Regions from separate parts of the Homo sapiens genome. Here regions 1, 2, 4 and 5 are each linked to region 3. The links come from fine-mapping of genetic effects on gene expression. A gene starts in region 3. Each other region holds a variant in brackets. All regions are shown on one strand. Distances are from middle to middle.

Region 1 (4,790 bases), 39 kb after region 3:
GACAGTACGGGAAAGTGCAGCAGCCTTGTAGTTATAGTGGCCACAGAATGTAGTCACAGAATAATGTAGCACCAGGTTTCTTACTGTCAACAATCTGTTTAATTTGATTTTGGTTATTTTCCACCTCTTCAGCAAATTCATGTCACTGGGAACCCTAAGATAAGGAATTTGCCTTCCCTGATCTTCCTGTGGGGTAGAAGTAAAATGATAAGAATTCAATCGTTAGGTTGTCCATGGACCTGCTTAAGAGTGCAAGGAGGTTTTAAAGGTCCTTAGAAAGTCAAATGTGGACCCTGCTGAAGAAGGGATGCAGCGTTGCTTACTTAAAACTGTAGTGAACAGAGAAGAGAGAAATTTAACTTTGATATTGTAGGCCTCAACGAGTAAAGAAGGCTTTCAATCCTGGCAGGTACTAAGGTTTTAGTATCATTCTCTTTAATAAGTCATCTGTGGACAAAAATGAAAAAATCAGAAAGCCATAATTACTAAGAAAGGAGATCTGACTAAATAACAAAGAAACAGATTTTAGAAGTCCTGAAAGGACACATTTGTTTCAGAATTAGCTCTGCTAAAATTTTTCTTTTTCACAGAAGGAATAAGCTTTAAATGGCTATGTGAAAAATAGATTATAGGGAACTAATGTTCTTAGATCATGAATCAGGGACTTTGTTCATTTATATGCACTGCTTAAAAGTTTTCACATAGTTATCATTGTTTAAAACTAATTATAATCAATTGCTAACTCATCTTACCTGGGAATTTATTTAGTTTAGAACATGTAAGTAAATTTCTTTAAATAAAAAAGAGAATTTTAGTGGCATGAATTAAATGTAATTCAACTTGAGCAAAGAAGAAATGGTTATAAAGACAAATATTAACATATCAAAATCATGTTAATGTGCTAACTTTACCTAAGCAATAAACACATCAGAACAGAAAAAAACTTGACAATAAGAAAATAAGTAAATATATTTTTAATTTTTAGTAACTAGATGTTTCTCAGTTTTTCTGTTTAACATTTTGGAAGTGAATATGGCTGGTATGTATAATGCATAAGAAAAAAATCCTGTTTTATGACAATGGAAAAAATCATATTTATAAGCTTATGTCATGTGAACTTTGCTACACATCAATTAGGTAAAACTGTACTGGATCCATTTTAACCCTGTGAGTTGATTGCTTTCAGTGAAGCTTGCTGGACATCTTTATGTCCGAGAGTGAGATGTTCTTATAATTAGGGGCAGCTGTGGTGACAGAATCAATTAGGCAGGCCTGCTGAACACTTACCTTCCAGCTGCTGGCCGCGGCGCAGTGATTTGCTCCAGCATTCATTGTCACGGTGTATTGCCTTTACACCTCGAAAGAACAACATTAATCCATTAAGCCACTTTTGTTGCTGTATCCTCACGTGGGGGTTATCACATCGCAGTGAACACAGGAGTGAGATACAGCACTGTTCACCCTTGTGGCATTTGGCATATGACAGATAGACAGCTGCATAGTTCAAAAGAATTATTTTAACACCAATCGCAAGTATTGCCTTGTTTTATTTCCCCATCAATTATCCAAGTAGCTCAGAAAATTCAGCAATTTTGCATATCTACTGTATTTCTCAGACTGTCTTTTGCACGTGGAATAAGTGCAGAAATAATGTCATGTGGTGTATCCCAGGTTTTGTGAGGAAAATATGGACCCTATTGATAGATCATTAAATAAAATCTTTAGCACATTGTCTGGTAGTTAAGAGCCAGGGCTCTGGAGTCAAACTTCCTGGGTTCAGATACTGACTTGATAGTATACCAGCCGTGTGACTATAGACAGGTTACTTTACCTCTCTGTTTCTGTTTCTTCATCTGTAAGTTGGTGATAATGGCAGTAATACATATCTCCTGGAGTTATCATAAAACTTAAAAACGTTAATGAGCATAAAGCTCTTAGAACAATGCCTGGCACATAGTAGGTACTCAAGTATCAGCTATTATTATTCAAAGGTGTTTATTGTTGAAAGTA[CTATA/C]TATATATATATATATATATATAATGTGTATATGTATACATTACATTCTACTATATATACTATATATAAATATACTGTAAATAAAAAGGACTTTATTTAACTTCATCTCATAGGCTTTGGAAATACATTATAGTTGTTTTAAGATTTTTATCTTTAGTCCCTAACTGTGAAGTACAGGGCAAGGAACTGTATAGAAAAGAGAGATTGCTAATTTCAATAAATAACTAATTTCAATTATCAGGGTGAAAAATTATCTCACCTAATAAACCTGCATTCATTTTCCCTTGTAGAATTTTACAGTATTGTAAATTTCTCACAGACAAATGTGGAGAGGTGATTTGGTTTACATAGCTCATTATAAGAACAAAAAATTTACTGTAGTGGCTATGAAATGGAGTGATCTTTCCCAGATTTTTAATCTACTGTCCTTCTCTCCATTTTCTGCCTCCACTTCAAACTTTGTAGAAAAACTAGGTATGGTAAAAAGTCCTAGGTTTAAGTTTTGGTTCTGCAACTTGTTAGACTTACGACATTAAGTTCCCCTATCAGTTTCCATCTCCTCACCTGTAAATGGAAACAATCATTAGGTACCTTACATGAAATACACACCAGAACTGTTGCAGATGAAAGGAGATTTGACCAAATAGTAATTTTGCGGATATGTAGTGACAACAAGGCACATTAACAGTTAAGGGAGCAAACCAGCATCTTGTAGACCATGGTCAATCAATGGAGAAGAGCAACTTTGACTTGAGGGCATAGGAGGTATGGTGGCTGACACTTATAATCCCAGCACTTTGGGAGGCTAGAGCAAGAGGATTCCTTGAAGAGGATTGCTTGAAGTGTTTGAGACCAGCCTGGGCAACATGAATCTCTGTATACAACAAAACAAAAAGCCCAGCGTGGTGGTGTGTGCCTGTGCCTGTGGTCCCAGCTATGTGAGAGGCTAAGGCAGGAGGATCACTTGAGCTTAAGATTCTGAGGCTGCAGTAAGCTGTGATCACATAACACCACTGCATTCTAGCCTGGGTGACAGAGTGAGACTCTGCCGCCAAAAAAAAAAAATTAAAGCAGAGAAGGTAATGTGCTTTTCTTGCAATAATACAAGAACCGTCTGACCACTCTGGGTAGACTCTGAAATTAGGTGAAATAAATGAGCTAGCAAGGAACATGACCAGGGTCTCGGCTGAGGCAGGGTCCAGTTTGAGAGTCCTCCAACAGTGATGGCCAGATAAGAGAAATACAGAACATGAAAACTTCAAAGTAAAGATAATACGACTTACTTGACAATTTTCCAGTTAGATTTACATGTCATTTTTGTTAGTGTCTGATGGCAGAGCGGCATAAGAGTCCTAGCCCAGTGGCATGCAGAACACAAACAATGTCACAGGGCCTCACGATTCCAAATAATAAAAAGTCATAGAGAAGATAGATGGGGCCTCTGGAATCATTTTGTACCTGGGTTTCTTCTTTGTCAGCATCTTCCAGATTCTTCCTCATCCTTTCAGCAGACACTTGAAGTCCTACTTTGGGTTAGGAGAGCCTGAGATCCTGTATATCTTCCATTCAATAAATTCAGAAATTTTGATGTTTAGGTATAGTATCAATCCAAATGGACACATACACAGTCAGGAAATAGCCTAACCCTCCAAATAGAGACTGTGACCCCCTGCTATTAACTTGCTGACCCTTGTTTGATTTCGTAGGGATAAATTCCTTGAATGGCCCTCTGTTTGTACATGTGGGTTTTTTTGTTTTGTTTTGTTTTGTTTTGTTTTGTTTTTTGAGACGGACTCTTGCCCTGTCACCCAGGCTGGAGTGCAGTGGTGTGCCCACTGCAATCTCTGCCTCCCCAGTTCAAATGATTCTCGTGCCTCGGCCTCCCTAGTAACTGGGATTACAGATGTGTGCCACAATGCTTGGCTAATTTTTGTATTTTTAGTAGAGATGGCGTTTCACCATGTTGGTCAGGCTGGCCTTGAACTCTTGATCTCAAGTGATCCATCTGCCTCGGCCTCCCAAAGAGCTGGGATTGCAGGTATGAGCCACCAGCGCCCAGCCCTCTACATGTTTTTTAAGTGCAGTCAGTTGAGTATGGTTTTCAGATGGAGAATCTGATTAATCATCTTCAATGGCCTTAGCATAAGCATTCTATTTAACTGAGCTGATTGTGGCTCATACCCTCAAATCAAATATCTTAAAGAATCATACTGTTTCAGTCATCGTGTAGCAGTTAATTGTGAGAAGTGAAACTTGGAGGACATCCGTATGTAAAATCCCCCACCAAAGGAAACCAATATGTTTGGGAAATCAAAATGAAGCACTAGTAAGAAGCCAACTCTGGCTGTAGTGGCACCACTGTGATGAGTGTTAGCATAAAATGCTGAAATACTGCCCCCAATTTTATTCTTTTATGTTGTATAATGAAACGTTCTATGCATGTTATGTGCTTGCAAAGAAATTATTCAGTAGTTCATATACACATCGTTGGATTACATAAGGAGCTGGACATGGAACTGCTAGAATGGAATTTCCAGAGTCCAGCCATCTTAACCCTACTTTGAAGCCTATTCCCAGTGTGTTTGCTGGTTGGATTTAGTTTGCTGCCAGTGGTAAAGAGAGTCAGCTTGAGAATATATTATAACAAAATACTGAATTTTATGGCAACTTTTATTTCAAATGAAGGTGCCATCCTCCTTCCTCAGTAGTCAGGGACAAATAGCAGCTCCATTCCAGCTCACAGGGAACCCTATTTAACTTGAATCAAGAACATTCT
Region 2 (4,790 bases), 21 kb after region 3:
TTTGCGTCTATCTCTAAGGTTTGAGATTTGCCTTAGAATTTGTCCAAAAAATGATCTTTTTTGTCAAATTCTTTTAAGGTGATGTTTATTATATTTCATTCAGCACTTTTAATTGTTTCCAGCCAGGAGGTTCTTGTGAGAAACTTACCTTCCAGGAATGGAAGAGGAATCATTAGTCATTAAGGAGCTAAAAATGTTAGGAAAATATTAATGCTTCAGAAACAATTTGTTGATCTGAAGAGTACCTAAGTTAGGGATTTTCAGAAAGTAGCATTTTGTTTTGTTTTGTTTTGTTTTGTTTGAGACATGGTCTTGCTCTGTGGCCCAGGCTGAAATGCAGTGGCGCGATCTCAGCTCACTACAACCTCCACAAACGATTCTGTTGCCTCAGCCTCCTGAGTAGCTGGGATTATAAGCAGGCACCACCACACCCGGCTAATTTTTGTATTTTTCGTAGAGACGGGGTTTCACCATATTGGCCAGGCTGGTCTTGAACTCCTGGCCTCAAGTGCCCACCTCGGCCTCCCAAAGTGCTGGGATTACAGGCATGAGCCACTGCACCTGGCCAGTAGCATTCTTTGGATGAATTGACTCTGGTTTTGTTAGCCTTCAGAATCTAAGGAAGTTTATATCTGGTCAATTTTGAGAAAGAAGATCTCTAAGAAATGCCTCAAGTGGGGAAGGGATGGACTTTATAAACCAAAATGTCAATGTGTTAATCCTAAATATCTCAATGAAATGGGGCAAAATATGGCTAAGAAAAATTTGACAAGGTGTAAATCTCACTGAATGCAGTTGCTGTGGTTGCTACCAAGTTTACAAGAGAAGAAACCAGGTTTTGCCAATGCATCAAAAATTAGATTAAAAAAGAAATTTCTCTGGCCTAGTCTGATGCTTAGCCTTCAAGAGTAAAATGATGTGTTGTTAGATGACTTGACCAAAGTCCCATAGCCAAGGCAGGGAGAGTGTTGCAGCCTGGTGGTCCATTATCTGATGCCACTGGATCTATGTAGATGAGTTTGGAACTTCACTTTCTGCCTTGTCTGGGACGTAAAAACTTTGGGTGCCCCTCACTTCTTTTTTATATAAACTGTTGTGTTTTATTGCCCTGGCACTCTTAAGTTGCTGTTTCACCCTAGCAGTGCCTGCTTCAAGCCATCACCAATGAAAGTGCCTTTGAAGTGTCTTAAGGCGTGTGCATTGCCTAGACAAATAGTTGGCAGAAGAGGTCAACACAAGCGTCTTTGCTTTGGAGTGTCAATTGAAGAAATTGTTTTTCCACTTGAATTGGCAGTGTGTGCTCTTACTGCTGTTAGAGTTCTGGGCAGAGAAGTAGATGTGATAATTATGAAGGGAGAAGGGGGAAGAACAGCTGCAGAATGCAGGGAAGTGACTGGACTCCAGTAATCATATTTGGCAGGTCAAGGGTGAGATTTAGCCTGATGGGATTTGGACCATTCCCTGGGCTAGAAAGTAGTGTTAAAATCAACTCCAGGTGTTTCCGTTATTCTTAAGGCCTAAGTATTATTAAAGCAGAAAATAATATGGTTAGGATATGAATGGGAGGGGATTGGTCATTCGCTGCTTGGGAATCACTTATTTGCAATAGAGCTCATTCTCTCTTGACAGTTGCTCCTACATGTCTAAAATACACCATAAATCTCGAAGTGCTCGTTTCAATATTGAAGTTTCCTCCAAGTGAGCTGTTATCACTTTTGTCTTCAAGAGAATGCTAACTCACTGAATCTCTTTGAGCTTTTTATGCTTTACACTGTGGATTTTGGAGTTTGCTTTGGTTTTTCCACTAGTTCTTTAAGTTAAATTTAGGTAAAGAAATTTAAAATCATCAGGCTTATTCTTAAAAACTCAAGTATTATCAAATGATGGATGATAGAGATATGCTTTGGGAATATATCCAAGTACTTCAAATGATAGAAGTTAGAACACCAGGAGACATTTAGTAAGAGATTCTTCTGCTGGGTGAAATCAACATCAACATCACCTGGAAACTCGTGGGTAGTGCAAATCCCCTGGCCTCACCCCAGAGCTCCTGGAATGAAGCTGTCCGGGATAGGGCCCGGCATCCTGTGTTTTAATAAGCTGTTTGTGGGATTCTAATGTTCGCCAAAGTTTTAGGATCATGCCTGCAGAGAATCCTGCTCACTATGAAAGTTTGCATGCCTGAGTAAGTCAAAAGAGATCTTTGAAAATAGTATCTAGGTTTGAGAGACTTGCTGTGATTGTATAATTTTAGCAAATGTGTCAAAACAAATTTTTACTTGCAGGCAATATCTTGTTAGTACAGAGAAATAAAACAAACAAACAAAGATTATAAATAAGAACAAAAGTAATTCATCCAAGAGCCATGTGAAAATGAAAATCCTTGAAATGGAAAAAAAAAAAAAAGTTTTTCAGACTACCCTGTGGAAGTAGTAAGTTACATTGAAAGGCCGAAATCAGCCAAGATCATTTTTTGTTGTTTTGTTTTTTGTTTTTTGAGACAGCATCTCGCTCTGTCACTCAGGCTGGAGTGCAGTGGTACGATTTTGACTCATTGCAACCTCTGCCTCCCAAATTCAAGCAATT[C/A]TCCTGCCTCAGGCTCCCAAGTAGCTAAGATTACAGGCGCACACCACCACACCTGGCTAATTTTTGAATTTTTTGCAGAGAGGGGTTTTGCCATGTTGGCCAGGCTGGTCTTGAGCTCTTGACTTCAACTGATCCGCCCACCTTGGCCTCCCAAAGTGCTGGGATTACAGGCATGAGCCACCGTGCCTGGCCAGGCCAAGATGATTCTTGAAGTGTGTGTGCTGTGCGTACTGTGTGTGCATGTATACGTACATTTCTGATGGTTCACTTTAGTGATACTGTAGTTCAGTTTATCTGGGATTGCCTCAGTAGAAAGCTATACTCTTACTTGTTTAACTTTCTGTCTATTTTCTCCTTTAAAAAAGAAAAGATTATATAGTAGACTTATACTTGGTATCTGTCTGAAAAAAATTATATGAAAACTGTCTTTATTGCCAGGGAAGCACTTGTACTTTCTTTTCTCATTTATTCTTTTCTGCACTTTAATATTACAGTTTATTTGCTTCTGGCTTTCTTTCATAATTTATCAGAAATACAGGCTTGTATAGAAATCACCATTTTTTAAATAAAATTTTATTTTTATTAAATTATTGTGAGCTCATTGTTTTTTAAAACAATCATACACAAGTAAAACATTTACCTTGGGGGTGGGCATCAGTTCCTTTTCCCATCCGTTTTCATCTCTAGTTTTCTTTCCTAAAAACAAGCCCTCTCAACAATTCTAGTTAATTCTTTTTCTGATAGTTATCTTTTTTTTTTTTTTTTTTTTGAGATGGAGTCTTGCTCTGTCTCCCAGGCTGGAGTGCAGTGGCGCGATCTTGGCTCACTGCAACCTCTGCCTCCTGGGTTCAACCAGTTCTCCTGCCTCAGCCTCCTGAGTAGCTGGGATTACAGGCACACACCATCACGCCTGGCTAATTTTTGTATTTTTAGTAGAGACGGGATTTTTACCATGTTGGCCAGGCTGGTCTCGGACTCCTGACCTCAGGTGATCCGCCCACCTTGGCCTCCCAAAGTGCTGGGATTACAGGCGTGAGCCACTGCTCCTGGCCTCTGATATTTATCTTTATATTTTCTATATAACATGCATGTTCTGCTGTTTCTTTTTTAAAAACCTTTTATTTTAGGTCTTATAGGAAGCTTGTGCATTCATTTATTCAACACATAATTATTAAGTACCTAATACATTCTGTACATTGTGCTAGGTTCTGGAAATAAACAGAGAATAGAACAGACATGATTCTTATCCATGGAGAGCTTATATTCTAAAGATGCTAGGAAGTACTTTTAAATAAAACTCTGACTTATATATAAAAACTTCAGAAAAGAAAGGGCCTGCTTTTAAATATTTTTTTTGGTGTTGTCCACTACTTGAACTTCATCAAGTTCATCAGAAAAAATTTAAATGGTATTTCTAAATAAGTGGTTTGCTCCACTCTATCATTAAGCTTGTTAAGATGAATAAAAATCAGAATATTTTCAAATGTATGTAAATACATACATTCAGTGTATTTCCCAGCTTCAGAAAGTCCTAATTTCTGAAAGTCCTTGTTATCAACTCTTGTTTTGAAAGGACCCTTTCTTTAAGATAAAGTGTCACATACATTATTTTGTATTGATACAAATTATTGATGATTATGGATATTTTAGGTAATCAATACTAAGATAATTATGTTAATATGAATTATGATTATAGGGTATTGGTAACAGACAGGAGTGTAGGTGAATGATATGAATTTGCACTGAGTTTGTCATGCCCAGAAAGTTAATCTGAGCCAAATTTCTAAAAAGTGCCTTCCTTATTCCATATTATGTATGAAAGAAGAGCATAGTTTATGTGTGAATATATGGGCAACATGTATATAGATGTCCACATGAACTGCGCCTGGTTAGGTCCTAGAAAAGCCTATGGTGGGAAAGGTGGGTTAAGAGGATTGAAGTTAGGAGTGAACTTGTTATAGTCTTCATAAATATTTTTATAGCCAGTAACATAAAACAATAAAGACAGTGCTCCAAATTAAAGATACAGCAATGACATGACATCTACATTTGAAACTAGTAATAATGGATGCCGGGCCCTATTACTAATTTCTGCTTAGCATTCCTTACTCACCAGAAATGTTTTAGGATCTTAGTTCCTTTGCAGCTTGGGATGCTTGTAAATTCACTTGTTCTTTTATAAATAATGTGCATACAAGGAGATT
Region 3 (4,790 bases):
AATCTCATAAATGTTTTAACTGTCCAAGAAATGGACATTTATTTGGTTAATCTTTTAGCTGGCCATAAATAATGTAATAAAACCCCTTAAAATTAACATTAAATAACATAAAGACCTAACGATTTTTAGAAAAAAACCTTTTTGGACTGAGCCTTGAATTTCCTGAGAATTCAGCTACAAGTGATAACTAAAATGTAACTCGAGAATCTGGATATGGTTCCAGAAAGGATTGTTGTCATGCAATTGCCATTTCATCATCTTTCCTTAAAGTCCCTTCAATATTTATCATTGCAATTTTTGTCCTGTCTTTTCCCCTCCATCACATCAAACCAAGGAAAAACAATTATTAAATGCTCATTTATACTCACCTCCCTCCCTTCATATTCATTCATTCCTCAGCCCTAAAATTCCTGTAGGAATCCTGCTTTTACGTTTTATCTTAAAGCCACCATAGTATCTGTAATCTCTTTTGTAGTCATGTATGCTTAATTTTGGAAGACTGTCAACTACCTCTTCAGGTTCATTCAAATGAAAATGTATCACAAAATCGTAGGCTCTTCCCCTATCTCACTGAAAAATTACTCTAAAAATGACCAGTAAGCTGTTTTGTTGAAGCAAAACATCCAGACCCTAAACAAAAGTAGCAGAATTACAACATTTCCATAGAAATGGATTTTGAGCTTCTTTTTTTTAATTGGGGAAAATCTTATTTTTTAAAAAAGAATCCCAGAATACATCTTTGCTTTCAGTCCTTCAATTCTAACATAATGCCATGTTAGAGAATATGTGGTAGTGTATACTAAGCCCTTATGCTGTCTCACATCCTTGGGACAAAATATCTGTTTTGAAAGGACTTCTCTGAATTTTGCTATTTCCTGCTTACTGAGCAGTGGCCCCCTCCTGGGAAAACAGAGTTATTTCAGCCAGTGTTCAGACTCCATCTTGCATACGTCTCTGTGGAATATTAATAGTGCTACTGAGATATATTCATCATCTTTTCTCTGCTTTTGCTGTCTTTATAGCCCAGTGAAATTTATATTTGGTGTTTGTAGGAAGGCTATCAGAAGCTACTTGGACATCAAACTTTTAAACTATAAATAATGATGGCAAGACTGCTAGGATATCTTTCCACAGTTAAACCCATTCAACAGAGTTTCGTTCTTATGACAGTGCAAATTAAACTAGAATAAAATTAGTGTGATTTTAGGACAGTTTTAAAGTGAACATATTTCCCTCCCTCCCTTCCCATCTACATATCAAGGAGACACTCCAGACTGCACTTTTATTTAAATTGCGGCCATCAGAAAATACCGTGAGAAGGTAGTGTGTAGGTAATGGTTCAGTTAGCATTGACCCCAGAAAATGGAAAACCAAGAGCAAGTCACTTTTAAAGTGAAGCAATAGATTTTGAATATGGATTGTTCCAACTCACCACTTCCCGACCACAACACAAGAGTATTTCACTGTAAATTAAGAGTCTAAGTTAACCACAGCTGTGGTATAACTCTGAGAATGTTTTCTCTACATGTAGACAATTCTGGATCCTTCCGTGGTGCCCGTTACCCTGGTCTTTAACTTTTGTCCTTTGCAGGGGAGGGGTCAATGCCTTCTTATTTCCTTGCTCTTTAGAATTCTCCACCAGAGGGAGGACAAGGGAAGGAGTAGGTTTCACGCGCAGTTCTGAGTAAAGTTTGAATCTGAGAAACCCCACATTCACGAATTAAGGATCTCCAGTTCTGTGTCTTTATTCTACCCCTCCCTGCCTGCTTTTCCACTCGGCAGAACTGAGTGACTTTCAGCGGCTGCAGTAATTTTAATTATTCTGAGTCGTGCTCCGAACTATGTTTTTTATCAGTTCCTCTGAAAATTAAGTTGTAGTAAGAGACGTAGTTTAAGGGCACCCCCTTAGAAGAGGCCAGGTTATTTTTTAAGGAAAAGCTGAAGATTTCTAACAGGCACTTACTAAACACACACACACACACACACACACACACACACACACGCACACGGCGCAGACCCAGCAGGAGAGCGCAACCTAGCATCTTTAAGGTTCGCTTAGCCCTTCCTGTGCACCTGGAAGGAAGCCTTATCTTAAACTCCCTTCCACCTAGAGTTTATTTTCGCCTGCGTGCGACAGGGCTTTTGTACTTAAGTGAGTTAAGGAATGAACCCCGAACTCTTCTGGGAAAGCCACCAACGTTCCCCCCGCACCCCTCCCAGGGTTCCTGACCACGGAGACTCTGCTTGGGGCACAGGTGTGGGAGTCGCAAACTTTTCTCTGCGCCGTCCTTTTCCGCGTGGAATGGGACGGAGCAGCCCTCCCAGGCGCTGCCTGGCTGCGGAGGGGAGCGGGCAGCGAGAGCCTCGGGTCTCCGCCTGGGTTCCCGGGTCTCCGGGGCGCTGGCCTCGGTCTCCGCGCAGCGTCCAGCGACCCCTGTCGGGGGTTCCCGGCAGCCGCGCCGCCACCCCCCGCCCGGCCAGCGCGGGAGGAAAAGGGGCTGCGCCCGGGAGCGCCGAGCCCAGGCTCCTCCCGGTGGCGTGTCCGCGCCTCGGGGTGGGGGTGTGGTGGGGAAGAGGGAGGGGGCGAGGCCAGGGGAGGGTGCGAAGGAGGCGCCTGCCTCCAACCTGCGGGCGGGAGGTGGGTGGCTGCGGGGCAATTGAAAAAGAGCCGGCGAGGAGTTCCCCGAAACTTGTTGGAACTCCGGGCTCGCGCGGAGGCCAGGAGCTGAGCGGCGGCGGCTGCCGGACGATGGGAGCGTGAGCAGGACGGTGATAACCTCTCCCCGATCGGGTTGCGAGGGCGCCGGGCAGAGGCCAGGACGCGAGCCGCCAGCGGTGGGACCCATCGACGACTTCCCGGGGCGACAGGAGCAGCCCCGAGAGCCAGGGCGAGCGCCCGTTCCAGGTGGCCGGACCGCCCGCCGCGTCCGCGCCGCGCTCCCTGCAGGCAACGGGAGACGCCCCCGCGCAGCGCGAGCGCCTCAGCGCGGCCGCTCGCTCTCCCCCTCGAGGGACAAACTTTTCCCAAACCCGATCCGAGCCCTTGGACCAAACTCGCCTGCGCCGAGAGCCGTCCGCGTAGAGCGCTCCGTCTCCGGCGAGATGTCCGAGCGCAAAGAAGGCAGAGGCAAAGGGAAGGGCAAGAAGAAGGAGCGAGGCTCCGGCAAGAAGCCGGAGTCCGCGGCGGGCAGCCAGAGCCCAGGTGGGTGCGCAGCGCGGCCCGGGCCCCACGATCCTCCTCCTGCTCCTCCTACTCCTCCTCCTCCTCGGATGCCGTGGCCTCTCCCTCCCCCTCTCCCTCGCCCGTCCTCTTCGCCCTGCGCTCTGAGCGCCCGTTGAGTCGCGCGGTGCTTCCCCTCCTGGGGGCCGCCGCTCACCTGGGCGCCGAGTCCTACCGGGCGCCTACGCCCAGAGCTCAGGGCAAGGGACAGCAGTCCCGGCCGCACCCTCCCAGAGTCCCGGGAGCGCTTCGCTCCCTGGCACGGCCCCTCCCCAGCGCCTTAGCGGCTGAGCCCAGCCCGGGAGTGGGACCTGGGCTATAGGAGTCGAGGCTGCGTGCGCGCGTGCCCCGCGCCATAAGCGCTTTGCACGGGGGCCGTGTGCCCTCTAGCGGGAAACGCTGGAATGGGCCGCCTGGAGGGAGAGCCGGTCCCCTCGGTGTGCCTGGCAGCGCAGAAGTGGGTGGTCGAGCAAGAGGCCGCGTGGGAAGTTAGCTTCGGCGTTTTGGGGCACAGGGCAAGCGATGTAGAGTGCGCGCCGGTTCATCTTGATTCAGTCCTGTGCTACGGAGACTCAAGAGCAGCGGCAGGGATTCCTAAAGGTCAGCGAAGCAGATGAAATCTAGTCCAGTGTCAGGAATCAGCTCTGCCCCAAACAAGTTCTACAAACTTTTGGCTTAACAGTTCTATTTTTCAAGACCTCTGTGATAAATATGGATAATTTACTTTCCCAAGAGATGTAAGAAAACAACCGTTTATCTGAATTTTTGAACCCAATTGTTTGCTGGTTATCTATATAATAAAATGGCAATTGAAGCTTTCTAGAAACAAATCTTGTATTTCATCATCAGAACACGAGCATGAACAAAAGCTTTACCTTAGATGTCCCTAGGAAGCGCTGATGCTTTGGACATTACCTTGGACAAAAGAGGCATGTCGAATAAATACTTGTTTATGAGTGATTGGTAGGTAGCTGATAAAAGAGGGGAGGAAGGAGATGGGGGAGAATTTATTTTTTGCCTCTGCAATTCCCAATTATTAATTGATCCAGATGCCTTAAGTCGCTTCGAGCGTACCCCCAACACACATTTCATGAAGCACTTCTGCAGAATTAATTCACTAGTACTTGATAATACTGTGGCTACAGTAATACTGTAGAAGTATTTGTCCCTTGCTGGAAGAAAACAAACCACATTTGCTTGGTCTTCTTACTGGTATCACTGATAGCATTTCAGAACCTGGGTTATTGGCAGAGACCTTCAGCAGAGTTTTGAGCAAAACAGAAATTGAACAGAGAGTAATTGTTTCACCACTGGCCATTCTTGTGCTTGCTTCTTTAATAAGATCCTGCTGATCATATTCACTTCAATTACTGATCATTGCCCCTCATGAGGGTGTATTGAATTTTCCCTTATTTTTACCCTATATTTTGGGGAGAGACCATAGCACTTTATTCAACAAGATAGGAAATTGGGGAGCTGGATTAGTTACCTCCCTGCGTGACTTTGTCTACTGTCCTTTCTAAGGTCATCATAGTACATTACGGAGATTTCAGACCTAGCTCAAATCGTT
Region 4 (4,790 bases), 27 kb after region 3:
GAGACATTCCATAATTATGTCTCTAATTTTACATTCTACAGGCCTCATTTCCTCTGTCTGATAACTGTCCTCACCCAAGGGTTTCTACAAAGTCACAGTTTGGGTGAATCTGTCATCTCATTTTTTCAAAGAAGGAAATCATCATCAAATAAAATTATACACACCAAATAAATAAATATCAAATAATATATTAATCTACAAATTTGCGACATATTTATTTTCTGACTTTGAGGTTAATTTCGCCACCATTTTTCCTAATCTGTATATCCTATCCCCACTTGCAAACAATGTTTTGCCTGAACCGAGTAATGGCAACATTTATCGTAAGTATATCTTAGCTTCTTCTCCTTATCTGAATGGGGTTCTAGTTCCCTTAGCATTCTCAGATAACATTCTGAATATTCTACTCTGTATATCCAGTTTGTTCATAGACCTCAAAATGCAGACCCTGCATGGATTATTCCCATTCTGCTGTCTGTCTTTATGAAACCTGCCAATACTTATTGCTAGATGAAATTCTACAGATGTTCCATGATGACTTATTGACTCGATAACAGGGATCTGCAAACATTTCTGTAGAGACCCAACTCTGCAGTTGTAGCACAAAAGTAGCCACAGACAATTTATGAGCAAATGAATGCAAGTGTGCTCCAATAAAACTTTATTTACAAAAACAGATGGTAGGCAGGATTTGGCTTATGAGCCGTATTTTGCTGACCTCTGCTCTATAATATTCCTTGAAGAGATACTATTATCCCAATATCCTGACATAAAATATATATCCTTACCATTTGCTGTAGCAATATTCAATTTTTCTTTACCTGGCGTTGCTTATGTTCTCCAGCCAGTTCTGTCTTTTCATTAGGAATCTGAGTTAGGATTTCTTAGAACTATGTATTTGGGTAAGTTTATCAAAGGCCTTTTTATTTTTATTTTTTATTTTATTATTATTATACTTTAAGTTTTAGGGTACATGTGCACAATGTGCAGGTTTGTTACATATGTATACATGTGCCGTGTTGGTGTGCTGCACCCATTAACTCGTCATTTAGCATTAGGTATATCTCCTAATGCTATCCCTCCCCGCTCCTCCCACCCCACAACAGTCCCCGGTATGTGAAATTCCCCTTCCTGTGCCCATGTGTTCTCATTGTTCAATTCCCACCTATGAGTGAGAACATGCAGTGTTTGGTTTTTTGTCCTTGCGATAGTTTGCTGAGAATGATGATTTCCAGCTTCATCCATGTCCCTACAAAGGACATGAACTCATCATTTTTTATGGCTGCATAGTATTCCATGGTGTGTATGTGCCACATTTTCTTAATCCAGTCTATCATTGTTGGACATTTGGGTTGGTGCCAAGTCTTTGCTATTGTGAATAGTGCTGCAATAAACATACATGTGCGTGTGTCTTTATAGCAGCATGACCTTTTAAAGATCTTAGGAGCATAATGCTGTAACCTCTCAAATTTAAACAGGATAGAAGATTTTATACATTACTAATCTGGTTGGGTAGATGCAATTATTCAAATTCCAAGTGGGTGAGACATTCCGTAATTATGTCTCTAATTTTACATTCTCCAGGCCTCATTTCCCTCTCTCATTTCATCAGGTCTTCAAAAGGCTTTTAATAAACTTACCCAAATATATAATTCTAAGAAATCTCAAATTCAGTGCTTGATCAGATCACTGTGTGGTATAGTTTGTATATTTTTCCCCACCCAAATCTCATGTTGAATTGTAATCTCCAATATTGGGGGTGGGGTCTGGTAGGAGGTGACTGGATCATGGGGGTGGATTTCTCATGAATGGTTTAGCACCATTCCTTGGTGCTGTCCTCATGATAATGACTAAGATCTGGTCATTTTAAAGTGTGTGGTCTCTCTCTCTTTCTCTTGCTTGCTCGCTCCTGCTTTCACCATGTGATGTCCCCCACTACTCCTTTGCCTTCCGTCATGATTGAAAGCTCCCTGAGGCTTCACCAGAAGCCTGGCAGATGCCAGCATCAGGCTTCTTGTAAAGCCTGTAGAACTGTGGGCCAGTTAAACCTCTTTTCTTGATAAATTACCCAGTCTCAGTTATTTTTTACAGCAATGCAAGAATGGCCTAACACAATGTGTAATCTTTGTTTCATAGAGTTTACACTACAGCTTTGCCACCTAACTCTCCTATGTTAGTACATAGAATTTCTGAACCTTCAATCCTGTTCAGAATGCCAGATTGTGAGAGAATCAGTTATGCTTCAACCTTGAAAGCATGGAGTTCTCTGCTTTCAGGGAACTCCAGATGACTCAGGAACAGAAGTAAACCCTAGACAAATCTAAAGCCAAACATAGAATAAAGCTGAACAGCAGATCATAAATCCCATTCCTTGCTCCCTAGGAATACCTCTTCTTCTAACTCCAGCTTCAGATTTTTCCCCAGGTTTCACAATTGACCTTTGTCTTAGTGTCCATACTGGTTGGACATACCCCTCTGGCATAGACATTCATGATAGGCATTGCCATTCTTCATGATAT[G/T]TCATTCTTGGCTACTTCCTCTTTTTCTAGGATGCATGTTTTAGCTCACTTCATGTTCAATTGCCTTGTGGTTGGCCTACTTCTTCTTTCTCTTCTTTCCTACTTTTGTGGTTGCTTTATAGTTGACTAATTACTAGTTCATCGGCTCTGCTTATTGCCTAATACTATAAAAGTTCCCTTCCTGGAAGGGTTGGGGATGGGAAAGTGGGGGTGGGTGGTAGTAAAATTAACTAAACTTTGTAGTGGGCTGGAGATAGGGCATGAGTAAAGGAAAAGTTGTATTTTAGGACTGCTCAACTGCATGGATATTTATACTTTTTAAGACAAGCAACATTAACAAAGTCTGGATCTTAAAGTAGAGATCTACACTGGAGATAATAATATCCCTGTGGGCATTTAATGCTCATGGTTACCTAGAAAATAAGTATAAAGTAGGAAATTTTGAGAGAGTATTCTTGTAAAGATTAAATGGTGACACCAATGTAAGGCTTGAATGTTCTAATAAGGGTGAAACTTGGTCTGGGAATGGCAGTTCTTACACCTTTTATAATTCTTAACTGTTATTTTTTAGATCTGGTCATTTAAATCTGAGGACCCAGATATGCTAGTCTTATAGAAAGCACAAATTTAAAATGGGTTCTTTGTCTTACATAGCTCTAAAGTTTAGGAAAAAAGTATCTTCAAGCAACCTTCATAGGAATTCTCCAAAATAAATGTGTTCCTGATTAATATGTGTTTTATTTTTTAAAATTTATTTTTAATTAATTTTTAAATTGACAAAATTGTATGTATTTATGGTATACAACGTGATGTTTTGAAATATGCATACACTGTGGAATGGCTAAAGCAAGCTATTTAGCATACGTGTCATCATCTCACATACCATTTGTTTGTGGTGAGGACATTTAAAATCTACTCTCTTAGCAATTTTCAAATAATGTAATTATTTTAAATCAGTTGTTTAAATATTATGAAATTACTTTCAGCCCTTAGAGAATAGTCCATCTCACATGACACATAAAAATGGAAGGAGGTGTCTAGCTCAGGAGAAACTTTTTGGAATATTTGATTCTCTTTCCCTCATTTTCTCTTCTTTTTTTGTTTTTTAAAAAATAATTTTTAAACCCTGTATTGACTCCTGGCTATTATTTTGAATATGAGTGCTAACAATTTGAGCCTTGTAGATAACTATCCCAATGCCAATTGAACCATAATTTTCATTTGTCTCTTTCTACAAGATTCTGAATTTTTTCAGAAGTGAAATTAAGTCTCAATTCCCTATAATTTACCCAGGGCAATAAATCTTAAACATTTTTTCTTAAAAAAACAAAACAAAACATTTTTACTGGAAAGACTTTATGGGGTGGACATTAACTCTGTAAATGCCATATAACTTTTGGAGAGGGCTGCCCCTGGCACAGTGTAATATTTATGAGAAAGTTGTGCCCATACTAACCACCTGTATGAGAATCGCCTGCGATGCTTTTGTTTAAAAGGCAGATTCTTTTTTCCCTATATTTTTCTCTTTTTAAAAAAATAATTTCGACTTATATTTTATATTTATATTTATATTATTTTAAAAAATAATTTCAACTTATATTTTATATTCAACCTACGTATGCAAGTTTGTCATATGAGTGATATTGCGTGGTGCTGAGGTTTAGGGTACGAATGATCCCATCACCCAGATACTGAGCATAGTACCCAATAGTTGGTTTTTCAACTCCTGTTCCCTCCTTCCCTCCCTGCTCTAGTAGTCCCCAGTGTCTGTTTTTGCCATCTTTATGTCTATGAGTATTTGATGTTTAGCTCCTACTTATAAGTGAGAGCATGGAGTATTTGGTTTTCTGTTCCTGCATTAATTCGCTTAGGATAATGGCCTCCAGCTGCATCCCTGTTGCTACACAGGATGCAGTTTCATTCCTTTTTATGGCTACATGATATTCCACAGTGTGTATATACTACATTTCCTCAATGCAGTCCACCACTGATGGGCACCTAGGTTGATTCCATGTAAAAGAGCATATTGTTAGGCTTTTCTCTGAATTACTGAATCAGAGTCTTTCAATGGGTTCCATGAATATTTCATATTCATTTTAGTAAACTTGCTCAAGTGACTTATGTATACAGTTATAGGTTTGGGAACCTCTGGCCTGGGGAAGTTGTCTGCAACACCACTGACAGGTCCCTGTCCTGCCACAGACATTTCTGCTGTAACTCCATGCTTGCATTTTTTGGGAAAAACAAAGCAAGACAAAACAAAACTCATTT
Region 5 (4,790 bases), 87 kb after region 3:
AAAAAAAAAAAAAATGGACATGTCACACAGTGACAATGTTCAGTGTTATGATTCTATCATAAGGATAAAAAATTCAGATTGATTTAGATGTTGATGAGAAACTTGTTGCTCTAGAGCCTTGTATATTTTCATCAGAATTAACTGAAAGAAGGGAAAATTGTTTCTAATATGATACAGGATGTTCATCCTGATCATTTTATTATTGATTTCTTTAGTTACCATCAGTTCATCTCTGAGCAGCTCATTCATTTAGAAAGATGATAGCTTGTAAGTTTAATTCTAAAACTCATTCTCATCCTTGTTAGCATTTGACATGCCAATGATTTTGCAGAGCTGGGTTGTTATCAGGACTCATGTTTAGTCAAAATGTTTAACACTTATTTCTTTGATTCCTGTAGAATTTCCTTATTAATTAACCCAGGGTCTATAAGCAACAAATTTTTAAATCAGATATATATCTATATGCATGTAATTCATTTTTTTCTCTTTGATTTTTGACTACTTTTTTATGCTGATATTTTAGAATTTCTATGAAATTAACACATTTCCTTAACAATTCAGGAAATCTGACTAACTGTACTTTAAAATTGTGCTTTGGTATCACCAGTAAATAAGAAGGCTTCAATTCATCAAAAAGATAATAATAAACTGTATTAATGCTTTCTTTTATTTATTTATTTTAATCCATCTACCAAAAACAATCAAGACAACAGCTTTAAAAAAATGCAATCATTAAATTACTACGACAGCCTAGTCTGCTTTTGTGGCTGTTTTGTTTTGATGGTTACCGAGAATGGAAACAGACAGATTATGTTTTTCTGCTTGTAATTGTCCAGTACCTCCAAAGGCCTCTTGCCTGGGCATGATCCCTTCTGGAATTGAATTCTGCATTCTTCTTCTATCACTAATCAAACAAAACACTATCAGAAGAAAACATTTCCATAACTGGATCCGGAGTGAAGGAAAATTTCAGATACTTAGACATGCATATACAATAAACAGTGTTTCCTGACAGGCTCATTAAAAAAGAATGACTCCACTATGTGTCAACTGCACAAATAGAATCCATTATAAGACTATGGACTCTTACTTCTGAAGTCTGCCTTTGTGCCCACCTAAGATTAGGAAAACTAAATCTTCCACTAGAATTTAAATATCACAGAAGCAGAAACGATTGCAATCTCTTTCCCCAGTGCCTTCCTTCCTCTTTCTCTCAGTCTTGGGTAGGTCCTGGTACATATGAGGCACTTGCTTAAAAAAATAACTGAAGGAACGAATGAAGTTGCTTAAGGCCGGGAGCAGTAGTCTGTAGATGAGTCGACTCTCACCTGTAGTCCCAGTACTTTGGGAGGCTGAGGCAGGAGGATCGCTTGAGGCCAGGAGTTCGAGACTAGCCTGGGCAACATTGTGAGATCCCATCTTTACAAAGAAATTTTAAAAATTAGCCAGGTGTTGTGACATGTACCTGTAGTCCCAGCCAATTGGGAGGCTGAAACAGTAGGATCACTTGAGCCCAGGAGTTTGAGGCTGAGCAAGATCTTGTCTTAAAAAAAAAAAAAAAAAAAGGTTGCATAAAGCAGCAGAGACAGGATCAACCTAGAATGTCTGTGGAAAAACTTTGAAAAAGCATACATTCTTAAAAATAAATGGGAAATCTGTGGCAGAGGAAACAGTAACTACTGACCTGATCTTCCCTTTTCATTTTATTTTAATTTCTAATTTGCTGTAATTGTATGGTGCTTTCAAATACTGATTAAAACTCTTAAAAAAATGAAAGAGAGAAATCACATTTTTCTGCTAAACTGAGTTTGTGGCATGCCTTCTTCCTTCATCTTGTTGATGCTCAAAGAATTATGCAACAGAGGGCCATCATACTGTTTAGTATGTTAAATTATTTTGATTCATGTACTTACTAGCAACATCATTTAAATGGTTTGGTTTCGTCATGGCCAGACTTAAGACACATAGCATAATTAAGTTGACAACCTAATATTCCACATTAAATCCTGGTGTTGGAAAAAGCTAAACTGATCGGAGAAATAAATCTGTCCAAAGTAGAAACTGTAATATGTATGTGAACATGTATATTCTCATCATCACTTTTTGTTTTCTTCTTTTGTTCTCTGTTCCTCCTGTTGAGTCTTGTGTAAGTCCAAATAAAAATTTTATTGTAGAGCCCAACAACAAAAACAATGATCTCTTATGTAATTGATGATTTTAAAAAATGCTTTGAAAGTCTTCTTCCATACTTTGTATCAGTATAAAGATATTGTACAGTGGTACAGAAAAAAATGGCTTTTGAAGTTCAGATGGTTTGAATCTTTGCTTCACCACTTACTAGCTATGTAATTGTGGGTTATCTGTGCATCTTTTTAAATTCTCACTTTTTCCATCTGTAAAATAAGAACAATATCAGTTACTTTGCATACTGATTGTAAAGATTATAAATAAGAACTGATGTATATATATTACTTGGCACAATGTCTGACCTGTTTCTGTTTTTCACAGTCAGGCTTCTCTTCCATTTTCTAAGGTGACTCGGACCTTACCACTCTAAAAATTCAAATCATGCCTTCACTTTCTGCAGATTGCACTTGTTACTTTAGAAGAAAAGGAAAACTATAAGATGGAAATTATTTTAATGTCCTCTTACCAAATCTACAAACCCCAGCACAATGCCTGTCACAGATACGGTCATTTAGTAAACATCTTTTGGATGGATAGGTGGATGGGTAGCTAAGTAAATTAACATACAGATTAGGTCTTTGGAAATGGTAGCTATTTTTATTACACCCTGTACAGTGACCTTAAAATTTGAAATCTACTGCTTTTGAAAAG[C/T]AGGTCATCCTGAGGTTTTCCATTTTGTACCTGCCAGATTGTGAAAAGAAGTTCATTTCAATGCTGCACAGCACATTTCCTGATCAGTTGGCTGAATTACAGTCATGCCATTTCATTTTGAGTTGGACAATTCAAGCATTTAGCCCTGATTTTTTTTTTTGACAGTAAGTTAGTTATTTTTATACTCATTCAACACATTTTTCCCCCACCACAGGTTATTGTAAAACCACCTGTCTCTGGGAGCACAGTTAATTCTGTGCATGAGATTTCTAAAAATGTTTTACATTGTCATTGCAGTTTTTTAAAAATGTAGAGATCCCTCTGCTATTCTTTTGCATTGCCAAATGCTTAGGTACCTTGGAAAACTGCTTAATTGGTTCTTCTTATCTCACTAGATTCTTTGGCCTTAGGTTGTGAATGGGTAACAATCATTTAACTTTTGATGTGCCCTGAAGTTTCCATCCAAAACTTTTTTCTTTGAATCTTTTTTAGGGTGAAAGAGAAGAATATGGGGGATCTAGGTGTACATTGATACTTTTTAGATGCCTTTGATGTCAGTCAGTAAACAGCAGTAGACATTTGGAAGAGCATGATAGAAGAGACAGGGCTAATTCCAGGTATTTAACCCCAAGTTAAGGAGACTTAACCTGAGGCTGGGTTATTTCTCTGATCTCTAGGGACAGAGTAGTGGCAAAGCCTTAAGGTGGTAAAATTTTTGAGAAACACTTCTAAAGACTTATGTTTTGTTTTAGAATCCTATCTAAAAGCATTTCAAACAAATTAAGTTAAGCCGTTCCTTTCTTACTGGATGTGTTCGGGCGCAGGGGGTGGGGGCAAAAAGAAGCATATGGTTGAAGCTCTGCACTGCAGTAATTTGTAAAAGAAGTACTTTTCCTGCTAGGTTAAATTGCTCTGCCTGCCTCTTGCTGTCAGGGACATGATTTAGTTAAATACGGATGCTTTTAGAGGGGCTTTGTACTGCATCATACATATTTAATAGTTTATAAAATATCTGTGTGAATCACTGGGTGGAGAATCCAGCAGCAGAGAAGCTCAACCTTCACATTGGAGCCTCTGGCCTTAGGGTCCACTGACCAGTTGACCACTGGAAAAGGTGTGTTCAGAATGGGAGCGTCCTGAATAACCCAAGGATTCTACTGATTTCAACAGAATAAGCTTAGCATCTAACCTTTCAGATTTTTTCAGTAATGTGAACTTTACATTTTCTCAAGTCACATTATTCATAGATGTTCTAATTCCCCAGGGATCGAAGTATAGCATTAAGGAAAATCCCTTCTCAATAAAAAAATGGTATTGGGTGAGGGGAGGGGGACAGAAAAAGCTCTTAGATGTTCTATAGCAATTAATGGTTGCCATATAAAGATACCTCATTGTCATTAGATAATGGTTAAAATTATATGAATCTTTTACCCTTGATATAATTTTGAAATTCATCTTAAAAATCAATTCCTTAAAATAAAAGTAGTAGGGGAAAGAGGTAGTGATGGGTGGAGGCTGGGGGATGATGCAGAGAAGGAAAAAAATAAGCAAGTGGAGGTTACTAAATGTAGCATTGGTGGATTATTTTGTTTGTTTGGCATAGGTAATGAGTTTTATAATAAAACTTACTATAGTATATCAAGATAGGCTCCTTTCATATATGAACCCAGAAACACCATGAAAAATTTTTTAAAAAGTTCCAGCATTTTATTATGAAATTTTCAAACATAGAGAAAAGGTGAATTAATCATTCAGTAAACAAACTTATGCCCACTACCAAGATTTTACAGTTAATATTTTCCTATATTTGCTTACTGAGTGTCTACCCATTTATCTATCAACTTTTTATTTTTGATGAAATTTCCTGTATATATGAGTTCATTTTACCCCCAAATATCCCAGCATGCATAGTATATATATTTTATTACATTGTTTAAGAGAACATGTAGGTC

Direction of the effects. Alleles are on the strand shown, and positions count from the first base shown. SD is a standard deviation of normalised expression in the study named. Not every link is listed here.
As copies of C replace T in region 5, the expression in putamen of the gene that starts at base 2,687 in region 3 goes down (moderate effect, 0.52 SD a copy in GTEx).

The links. PIP is the estimated chance that this variant, and not a neighbour inherited with it, causes the effect.
Region 1: its variant is fine-mapped to the expression of NRG1 in whole blood (INTERVAL, PIP above 0.99).
Region 2: its variant is fine-mapped to the expression of NRG1 in whole blood (INTERVAL, PIP above 0.99).
Region 4: its variant is fine-mapped to the expression of NRG1 in whole blood (INTERVAL, PIP above 0.99). The same link has a PIP of 0.9 or more in blood mononuclear cells.
Region 5: its variant is fine-mapped to the expression of NRG1 in putamen (GTEx, PIP above 0.99). The same link has a PIP of 0.9 or more in caudate.

What each region holds. Positions count from the first base shown.
Region 1 is chr8:32,584,148-32,588,937 of GRCh38, forward strand. All of the region lies in intron 1 of NRG1 (neuregulin 1), which reads left to right. Among named protein-coding and RNA genes, the nearest start is that of NRG1, 38 kb to the left of the region's middle. The variant CTATA/C (reference allele first, on the strand shown) is at 2,011.
Region 2 is chr8:32,566,571-32,571,360 of GRCh38, forward strand. All of the region lies in intron 1 of NRG1 (neuregulin 1), which reads left to right. Among named protein-coding and RNA genes, the nearest start is that of NRG1, 21 kb to the left of the region's middle. The variant C/A (reference allele first, on the strand shown) is at 2,587.
Region 3 is chr8:32,545,625-32,550,414 of GRCh38, forward strand. It overlaps NRG1 (neuregulin 1), which reads left to right and starts at 2,687. Exons shown (of 12, transcript NM_013964.5): 1 at 2,687-3,202. The coding sequence starts at 3,103.
Region 4 is chr8:32,572,716-32,577,505 of GRCh38, forward strand. The region is part of intron 1 of NRG1 (neuregulin 1); the gene reads left to right. Among named protein-coding and RNA genes, the nearest start is that of NRG1, 27 kb to the left of the region's middle. The variant G/T (reference allele first, on the strand shown) is at 2,520.
Region 5 is chr8:32,632,554-32,637,343 of GRCh38, forward strand. The region is part of intron 5 of NRG1 (neuregulin 1); the gene reads left to right. Among named protein-coding and RNA genes, the nearest start is that of NRG1, 87 kb to the left of the region's middle. RefSeq lists an enhancer at 198-1,397. The variant C/T (reference allele first, on the strand shown) is at 2,839.